Linked DNA regions of Homo sapiens. The protein of the gene in region 3 purifies or fractionates together with the protein of the main gene of each other region. This does not show direct contact. Each region holds a gene or a part of one and is shown on either strand. Other genes may lie near its edges.

Region 1 (3,730 bases), on a different chromosome or scaffold from region 3:
CTCTGTCGCCAGGCTTGAGTGCAGTGGCACGATCTTGGCTCACTGCAACCTCTACCTCCCAGGTTCAAGTGATTCTCCTGCCTCAGCCTCCCGAGTAGCTGGGACTACAGGCTTGTGCCACCACACCCAGCTAATTTTTGTATTTTTAGTAGAGATGGGGTTTCACCATATTGGCCAGGATGGTCTCGATCTCTTGACCTCATGATCTGCCTGCCTCGGTCTCCCAAAGTGCTGGGATTGCAGGCGTGAGCCACCGCACCTGGCGGGATGATTGTTGTAAACATCTCTGCTGTGCAATTCCTTCTATCTCATAAGTAGGGAAGCTGATTGCCTAACTGCATGGTGTGGTCTCTTATTTTGCTAAAATACATCTCCAAAAAGCAAAAAAAAAATAAAAGGAATATCTATTTTGCAGAGGAGTAAACAAAGGCTCAGAGCAAAGAAGGTGACTGTCACTAGGTCTAGGCAGGAAGGATAGAACCCAGTGCCAAGCATATTCCCCCGCCACCACCCAGCATCTCCCCAGGGCCTCAAACAGAAGCTGGGCTTTGAAAAAACAGGCCCTGGGGTCCCACTGCCCAGGAATAGCATGTGAACCCACAGGTAAAAGGGTCACCACCAGGCAGTCACAGAAGGACAAATGCTGTCTGATTCCACATACAGGAGCTAACTAGAGTAGTGAAAGAGAGACAGGAAATAGAAAAGTGGCTGCCAGGTGTTGCAAGGAGGAAGAAATGGGAAGCTTGTGTCTGATGGGTATGGAATTTCAGTTTGGGAAGAGTAAATTCTCGGGATGGATAATGGTGATGGGGGCACAACAGTGGAGATGTACTTAATGCCACAGGACTACATACTTAAAAATGGTTAAAATGGGCCAAGCGTGGTGGCTCACGCCTATAATCCCAGGACTTTAGGAGGCTGAGGCGGGTGGATCACCTGAGGTCAGGAGTTAGAGACCAGCCTGGCCAACACGGCAAAACCCCATCTCCACTAAAAATACAAAAATTAGCCAGGCGTGGTGGCAGGTGCCTGTAGTCCCAGCTACTCAGGTGGCTGAGGCAGGAGAATCGCTTGAACCCAGGAGGCAGAGACTGCAGTGAGCCGAGATTGCACTACTGCACTCCAGCCTGGGTGACAAAGTGAGACGCTGTCTCAAAAAAAAAAAAAAAAAAAAAAAAAAAAAAGGTTAAAATGAAAACATAGGTTAAAATGGTAAATTTGATGTTATGTGCAGATGTGGGCTGAATCATGTCTCCCAAAATTCATATGTTAAAGTCTCAACCTTCAGTACCACCGTGACTAGATTTAGAGACAGGGTCCCCCCAACTTTTTTTTGCGATAAGGTCTCACTCTGATGCCCAGACTGGAGTACAGTGGTGTGATCTCGGCTCACTGCAGCTTCAACTTCTGAGGGTCAGGCAGGGCCCAGTGGCTCACGCCTGTAATCCCAGCACTTTGGGAGGCTGAGGCGGGTGGATCATGAGGTCAGGAGTTCGAGACCAGCCTGGTCAACATAGTGAAACCCCATCTCTAATAAAAAAAAAAAAAAGCAAAAATTAGCTAGGCACTGGGTGCAGTGGCTCACGCCTGTAATCCCAACACTTTGGGAGGCCAAGGCGGGCAGATTGCCTGAGGTTGGGAGTTCGAGACCAGCCTGACCAACATGGAGAAACCCCATCTCTACTAAAAATACAAAATTAGCTGGGCATGGTGGCACATACCTTAATTCCAGCTGCTCAGGAGGCTGAGGCAGGAGAATCGCTTGAACCCAGGAGGTGGAGGTTGCAGTGAGCTGAGATCGCGCCACTGTACTCCAGCCTGGGAAACAGAGCGAGACTCCATTACAAAAATAAAAATAGGCTGGGTGCGGTGGCTCACACCTGTAATCGCAGCACTTTGGGAGGCCAAGGCAGGCGGATCATGAGGTCAGGAGATAGAGACCATCCTGGCTAACACGGTGAAACCCCATCTCTACTGAAAATACAAAAAATTAGCCAGGTGTGGTGGCGGGTGCCTGTAGTCCCAGCTACTCGGGAGGCTGAGGCAGGAGAATGGCGTGAACCCGGGAGGCGGAGCTTGCAGTGAGCCAAGATTGTGCCACTGCACTCCAGCCTGGGCGACAGAGCGAGACTCCGTCTCAAAAAAAAAAAAAAATACATAAAATAAAAATAAAAAAATTTCCAAGGCTCAAGTGATCCTCCTACCTCAGCCTCTTGAATAGCTGAGACTACAGGTACGTGTCACCATACCTGGCTTTTTTTTTTTTTTTTTTTTTGAGATGGAGTCTCACTCTGTCCCCAGGCTGGAATGCAGTGGCACGATCTCAGCTCACCGCAACCTCTGCCTCCTGGGTTCAAACGATTCTCCTGCCCTCAGCCTCCTGAGTAGCTGGGACTACAGGCACGTGCCACCACACCCAGCTAATTTTTGTATTTTTTTTGTATTTTTTATTTTTTTTGAGACGGAGTCTTTCTCTGTTGCCCAGGCTGGAGTGCAGTAGCGCGATCTCAGCTCTCTGCAAGCTCCGCCTCCCGGGTTCACGCCATTCTCCTGTCTCAGCCTCCGGAATTTTTTTATTTTTAGTAGAGATGGGGTATCACTATGTTGGCCAGGATGGTCTCGATCTCTTGACCTCGTGATCCACCCGCCTCGGCCTCCCAAAGTGCTGGGATTGTAGGTGTAAGCCACCGTGCCCAGCCAGATTTTTTTATTTTTAGTAGAGACAGGGTCTTACTATGTTGCCCAGGCTGGTCTCAAACTCCTGGGCTCAAGCAGTCCTTCCAACCTGGCCTCCCAAAATGCTGGGATTATGAGGGTGAGTCATTGTGCCTGGCCCAGATAGGGTCTGTAAAAAAGTAAGGTTCAGTGAGGTCATTATGGTGGGTACTAAGCCAGTATGACTAGTGTCCCCATAAGAGGAGCTTAGGACACAGACACACACAGAGGAAAGACCACATGAAGACACAGGGAGAAGACGGCCTTCTGCAAGCCCAGGAGAGAAGCCACAGAAGAAACTGCCCCTGCCCACAGCTGGATCCTGGACTTCCAGCCTTCAGAACTGTAAGACAATGAATTTCCTATTTCAGTTGTTTAAGCTACTCCGTCTATATTACTTGATACAAGGGCCCTAGCAAACTACTTCAGTATTTTTTGTGTTTTTATTTTTTCACAAATCAGGTAGCCCCCCAAAAACCAGAACAGGTTCAGGGAGACTCCCTACTTCAGTATGTTTTACCAGAGTAAAAAAAAGGTTTAGAAAACATTCCATCATACAAAAAAAAAAAGAAAAAAAGCAACTCTACCATACAGTAATGATCACCATCCTCAGCTGATCAGCTGACTTTTCCTTTCTTCCTTATTTTTATTTGAATGTTTTCGGTGAACAAACCCAAGTCCCGTCTGCTCACCTAAACAGCACACCTTTGATGACCTGCCAGGCATTGGGTGCCGGCTGGGCCGGTGGGTTCTGAGGCTGGGTCTCCGCTGGCGGGTCCCTCCCGATGCTGCCATTGCTGGTCACCTGTGGGGGACAGAGGCCAGGGTAAGGAGGGAGAATGGACACGGGGGCTGTCTTAGACACCATCATGCATGAAGGCCAGGCACAGGCTGGGCAAAGAGTGGGTGCTTATCAATAACTGGAGAATGAATCAGTGAAAACACCTGGGAAGGTGCGGTCCTCTTCTTTTAGGAGGAAAACACTCGCAGAGCACCTCTGTGACCTAGGGACAGT
Region 2 (3,730 bases), on a different chromosome or scaffold from region 3:
GAGGTTGCAGTGAGCTGAGATTGCACCACTGTACTCCAGCCTGGCGACAGAGCAACAGCGAGACTCAGTCTAAAAAAAAAAAAAAAAAATTAGCCGGGTGTGGTTGGTGGCCGGCATTTGTAATCCTACTCGGGAGGCTGAGGCAGAACTGCTTAAACCCGGGAGGCGGAGGTTGCAGTGAGCCGAGATCGTGCCACCACACTCCAGCCTGGGTAACAGAGCAAGACTCCACCTGGGGTGGGTAGGGGGGAGATCGGGGGCAGGGAAGAAGCCACAATATGAAAGTGGTACAGAGAAAGAAAAAGAGAAAAAACAGGCCTGGCAGAGCGGCCCATGCCTGTAATCCCAGGGGTTTGGGAGATAAAAGGGGAAGCCTTGCTTGAGGTGAGGAGTTTGAGACCAGCCTAGGCAACATAGCGAGACTGAGTCTCTAGAAAACATTTAAAAAAATTAGCTGGGCATGGTGGTATGTGCCTGTAATCCCAGCTACTCCAGAGGCTGTGGTGGGAGAATCACTGGAGCCCAGGAGTTGAAGGTTGTAGTGAGCTGATTACACCACTGCACTCCAGCCTGGGCGACAGAACAAGACGCTATCTCTGGAAAAAAAAAAAAAAAAAAAAGGAGACATAACTAAAGGGTAAAGAGGAAGTTAGCAAAAGAATGAGAGGTGAGAACTCAAGGTCCCAAAGTAGACTAGATTAATACAGAGGAACATGACAATTACTTTGATTCTACTGGGTATTCTGTAGTCCCCTTGGTCAGTCAGTCTTAAAAATTCAGATATACATGTACCATTTTATGATTAAGTTTTCAATGGCCTATGACGAAAGGATCAAAATAAAGATGATACAGCAAATTTTTCATAAAGCTAAATTTATTCAATTTAAATGAGTATCTTTAATTATAACATTTTAAAATTTATTTTCCATTTTTAGAGAGAGTCTCACTCTGGTGTTTGAGAGGTCAGGAGTTTGAGACCAGCCTGGCCAACATATAGTGAAACCCCGTCTCTACTAAAAAATACAAAAATTAGCTGGGTGTAGCGCCACATGCCTGTAGTCCCAGCTACTTGGGAAGCTGAGGCAGGAGAATCGCTTGAACCCAGAGGGCGGAGGTTGCAGTGAGCTGAGATTATGCCACTGTACTCCAGCCTGGGCAACAGAGCAAGACTCCGTCTCTCAAAATAAAAAATAAATAAAAGAGAAGACAGGTGACACCATAATAAAAAAAAAAGGACAGATGATAAGCTGATCAAGTTTCCTTCAGGTGACATATATATGCTATACTCTCAAGAAACAATAGAAAAAGTTACTGGTTTTTTCAACTTACTCCCTTACATTTTTATGTATTTCAAAGCATGTGATCCAAGGGGTAGAATATTAAGCCTCAATGTTACTACTCTACAATAAAGGAAAATGTGGGAGTTAGAATGGACTGAATTCTCATGGCTAAACATATCACTTGAGCTCTGGGGGAGTGTAAAGACAGGAAACAATTGCAGACACGCTTGAGTTGCAAAGTCTCTGTCACTAACTCTCAGAGATGGGAAGTCAAGCCAGAGCCCAGATGTGGTCAGCAAGCTTTCTTGCTACTAAGCAACCTTGGATTCTCAGAGATCAGTAACTACTGACTTAGAAAAGACTACCTCGTACCCTAATATGTAGCCTTAAGAGTATGTTCTGGCTGCACATCATGGTTCACGCCTGTAATACCAGCATTTTGGGAGGCCAAGGCAGGAGGATCACTTGAGCCCAGGAGTTTGAGACCAGCCTGGGCAACATAGTGAGATCCCACCTCTGAAAAAGAAAGAATATGTCCTGCCTTCCTCCCTGTTCACAGCAATTGTTGAGCCACCTCTAAGCTTTGATCTTTAATCTTATCATGTTTATAAGGGTATCATTTAAAAAATATAATAGCTAGACTCTCAAAAATTCTGTGGTACAGAAATGAAATAATACATATAAGATTCAATTATTTATTTTCTATTCTCATTTTTTCCCACAAAAATACTAATTTTTTTTTTTTTTTTTGGTAAACCAGTCAAGTGGTATGATGATTATTACCTTCAAACCCGAGACAAAAAAAAGGGAGATGGGGCAGGTTTCTCTTCCTTTCAACCTTTTTAGCTCAGAAGAGAAGAAATCAGATTTAACTTCCCTTAGAAGTGCAGCTCTGCCGGGTGCAGTGACTCATGCCTGAAATCCCAGCACTTTGGGAGGCTGAGGTGGGCGGATCACCTAAGGTCAGGAATTCAACACCAGTCTGGCGAACATGGTGAAACCCCGTCTCTATTAAAAACACAAAAATTAGCCAGGTGTGGTGGCTGACACCTGTAATCTCAGCTACTTGGGAGGCTGAAGCAGGAGAATTGCTTGAACCTGGGAGGCAGAGGCTGCAGTGGGTCGAGACTTTGCCACTGCACTCCAGCCTGGGTGACAGAGCAAGACTCCATCAAAAAAAAAAAAAAAGAAGTACGGCTCTACAAGAATGACTTATAAAATGACCCATTAACTAGGGAGGATTGAGGCCTGACCATGGGTTAGCCCACTAGATGCAGGAGACCCATGGAGGATGTTCTTTAATGTGGGCAACTCTCCCAAGCAGTGCAGCAAAGTAGGCATAACAGTAAAAGTGTCTTAGCAGTCCCAGCTAGAGTAAGACTCCATTCCTCAAGCCCCCTTCCACTTGTTAGCTTTGAGTCCCTAAACCAAATACATATGAAGTCTCCAGAAGTCTATCACCTATCAACAGAGACAGAGTTCTCGGTATATATAGCCACTGGAGTCCAACCCAGTACCAGTTGTCAGCCTTAAGGTCAGTCAGGCAGATCAGAGCCAGTCTAGAGGTCATTTAGTCCAGTCTCTATATTTTATAGGTGAGGAAACCGAGACACATACAATTAGTCAATTTGGGCTAGGCGTGGTGGCTTACACCTGTAATCCTAGCACTTTGGGAGGGCGAGATGGGCAGATCACCTGAGGTCAGGAGTTTGAGACCAGCCTGGCCAACGTGGTGAAAACCTGTCTCTACTAAAAATACAAAAATTAGCTGGGTGTGGTGGTGCGTGCCTGTAATCCCAGCTACTCAGGAGGCTGAGGCACGAGAATTGCTTGAACCTGGGAGGCAGAGGTAGCAGTGAGCCGAGATCACACGACTGCACTCCAGCCTGGACAACAGAGCGATTCCGTCTCAAAAATAAATAAATAGCCCCATCCCTTCCCCGGCTCCCCCGGTGTCCGCCATGGCCAAAGCCTACGACCACCTCTTCAAGTTGCTGCTGATCGGGGACTCGGGGGTGGGCAAGACTTGTCTGATCATTCGCTTTGCAGAGGACAACTTCAACAACACTTACATCTCCACCATCGGAATTGATTTCAAGATCCGCACTGTGGATATAGAGGGGAAGAAGATCAAACTACAAGTCTGGGACACAGCTGGCCAAGAGCGGTTCAAGACAATAACTACTGCCTACTACCGTGGAGCCATGGGCATTATCCTAGCATACGACATCACGGATGAGAAATCTTTCGAGAATATTCAGAACTGGATGAAAAGCATCATGGAGAATGCCTCAGCTGGGGTGGAGCACCTCTTGCTAGGGAACAAATGTGACATGGAGGCCAAGAGGAAGGTGCAGAAGGAGCAGGCCGATAAGTTGGCTCGAGAGCATGGAATCCGATTTTTCGAAACTAGTGCTAAATCCAGTATGAATGTGGATGAGGCTTTTAGT
Region 3 (2,853 bases):
ATCACTATCTATTTGCTGGCTTGCATTAAAAATAATTACCTATAAGTTCACATCTTCTCCAAACAATGACAATACTCAGCTTACATCTTCCCCAAACAAAGACTTAGATCTTCTAAGGTCTAAATGTGAATGTATCCCTCTCCCCAGAAAAATTCACACATGCACCAAATTGTGTATTTAATTCAATCCAACAGGAGGTTCTGAGCTCCTTGAAACAGCCTTAGAAATGAAAACTAAACTAAACTAAACCTGGTATCACTTGGTGCCCTCTTTTTATTTAAAAATATATGTTAATCTCAAAGCTAAGATTACAGATTTAACTCCTTCCAATCTCCTTTTCCATAGGTTATAAAAAGAGTTATTTGATTAAAAGGTGGGTCACTATGACCAGACGCTCTTCTTTACTAGTTGGAAGCTGATCATAGATACACCCACCTCCCTTACATAATTTGTAGCATTCCACCTTCATGGAAGAAAGCATTCAGAACTCTGCTACCAGATACACAGCCCAGGAAACATTATTTATTATTCTGTACACTTATATTCCACAAAGAGAACAACTTTTAAAATCCATATCAGACACAGAAATCTGCATGACATTGGAACAGTCCATGACACAGAGAGGACACAATTGAAACAGTCTTTATTTACACGGAAGCAGAGAGACAGAGGGATGAGGGCAGGCACCCCAAAAGTGACTTCACATTCACCAATGTTTCAGTGGCTTCTAAGACCACAGCAGAGCTGTGGATCCTGGGACTCACAGGGTATGAAAATGTGTTACCCTCCAAAGCCTCAAAACAAAAGGGTTGGATTAAAAACAAATACCAAGTGTTTCTGGCATCAGTTGAAAAATATCTGAGAAAGAGGAACTATTGAATGTCCAGAAAAATCAAAGTTCTGGAGGCTAGAAATCTGACATTTCTCTGATAGAGAGATCACTGGTCATCAGTTCATTTTGGGAAATTCTTACAGTTAAGTGATGTGTTTCCTTCATTGTAAATTTAACAGGAGAGCATCATTATGGATACATGCAGGGTTTTCTTTAATGGAATGGGAACTTTGATGATCTGATATAACCCCTGATTTTAAAGACAAAGAATCTTGAAGCCCCAAAAGATGAAGCCACTATCCCCAGGCCACCCAGCTAGTCAGCTGCAGACCCAAGTCTGTAAAACTATATGCTGTGCTTTTTCCGCCACACTACACACCTTCTCTGTTTTTCTCTCTTCGGTGGCTTTCGAAGGAAATAAACAAATAAAGTGAGTTCAATGGGCTTCTTTACTAGGAAATGATTTCTTTGGTAAGAATGCTTCAGTCTCACATTAGCGAGGCTAGAAAACAGATCATATAGCAGGAACTGGCTCCCAGCTGAGCGGTAACTCCTTTTGAGAATTAAGGCAGCTTCAGGGATTTCTGTTCAGCAGGATATCTGGCAAGAGTTGGTAGCTCTCCTTCTCCCTTGTCTCGTTTTCATCTAGAATGAAAGCTAAAAGGTGGGTGCTAAATAACTAGACATTGAGTAGACGTAAATGTGATGTTCTCAAACTGATATTTTACATTTCATGAAAAATAATAATTCTTTAAAAACCTGAAAAAATATCAAAAGCGTCAAGTGTCATATACAGTACACAGCACCCTTGTCCCGGGTGACCTCTGCTATTAAAAACAAGCTACAAAAAGGAAGTCAAAGATGACTTAACATAAAGCCCATACTCTCTCTCCATTAAATGTGGGTGGAAAGGTAAACCCAAATGATCTCCAAGCACCTCCCCGAGAACTTCCAAGGGCTTTCTGGGTACCCCCACCCTCCCAGGGGACCCAGGCTTGGAGCCAGGTTCCCATCCCAGATTCAGGAGCCAACTTCCGCCGCAAGGCAGCACCACTGCGTTGGTTTGGTGTTGGTTCAGCTAGCACCACATCTCCGATTCACCCCGGGACAAATGTCTGGAGGCAGAAGGGGCCACATGCAGATGGCAAAGAGGAAATGGCAGGCTCTCTCGGAAGCACGACCCTGCTCTAATGCAAAAGGCTTTGCTGACTGTTTGCTCTCATTTCAACCAAGTAGACTCAGCTTTTCACATCCAACTATTCCAAAGAGTGATTATTTTCATCAAAAGAGAGCAGCTAAATAATTTCCTCTCTGGAAACCAGCTAGAGGAAAATAAATGGCATTCTCTCGCCCCTTCCCATCCTCCAACACATTGTTCTTTTGCTAAGAAATTTTCCTTTGCGGTTTGAATGAGTTTTTTAAAAATGACAGTCCTGGGTGGGGTGAACCCTATTGTGCAGGGAATATTCAAAATAATCTGGGCTGAGAGTCAGTGGATGTGAATTGAAGGCCCAACTCGATCTGTTAGTTGCTAAAAAACCTTGAGCAAGAGTGACTAAAATGCTGGGCCTTGGTTCTCTCACCTGGGAAATGGGGAGATAGAAGCTATAGCCCTGCAGTCCTCACTGGGCAGATGGCAGGTAATGTGCATTAAAGTGCTTTATTACAAACAAACAAACAAACAAACAAAAACAAAAACAAAAAACGAAAAGAAAAATGGTAACACCTAGGAAGAAGTTACCTTTTATGGGAGGATATAAAGTCACTAATGGGGCCCAGACCCCGACCTGATTGTTCTCCATTCTTAAGCCTCACTGTTCACAGGGCTCCAAGACACCTGCCACCTGGGCTGTCTCAGGCATTCAGCTGACCTTTTTATACAGAAAGATTCAAAGTCTCCTGATTTTCCCTCTTTTATCTATAGAATGACCTGAGGACCCCGACCCAGCAAGGAAACCTCAGGACCCTGGGAGACAAAACCATCTCCCTGCCCCACCCTGGTCCCCTCATAATCCTCTTCA

The links.
Region 1: the proteins of SLC6A2 (region 3) and CLPTM1 purify together in Homo sapiens (affinity purification with mass spectrometry; one large-scale study listed by BioGRID and IntAct). This does not show direct contact.
Region 2: the proteins of SLC6A2 (region 3) and RAB5B purify together in Homo sapiens (affinity purification with mass spectrometry; one large-scale study listed by BioGRID and IntAct). This does not show direct contact.

The regions. Positions count from the first base shown.
Region 1 is NC_000019.10:44,961,753-44,965,482, reverse strand, and holds part of CLPTM1 (putative lipid scramblase CLPTM1), read right to left. Parts: intron 3,521-3,730; coding exon 3,408-3,520; intron 1-3,407. UniProt on the Homo sapiens protein: Involved in GABAergic but not glutamatergic transmission. Binds and traps GABAA receptors in the endoplasmic reticulum (ER).
Region 2 is NC_000012.12:55,980,545-55,984,274, reverse strand, and holds part of RAB5B (ras-related protein Rab-5B), read right to left. Parts: intron 1-3,730. UniProt on the Homo sapiens protein: The small GTPases Rab are key regulators of intracellular membrane trafficking, from the formation of transport vesicles to their fusion with membranes.
Region 3 is NC_000016.10:55,703,840-55,706,692, reverse strand, and holds the end of SLC6A2 (sodium-dependent noradrenaline transporter), read right to left. Parts: 3' UTR 1,478-2,853; coding exon of another isoform or gene 1,421-1,477; 3' UTR 501-1,420; downstream 1-500. UniProt on the Homo sapiens protein: Mediates sodium- and chloride-dependent transport of norepinephrine (also known as noradrenaline), the primary signaling neurotransmitter in the autonomic sympathetic nervous system.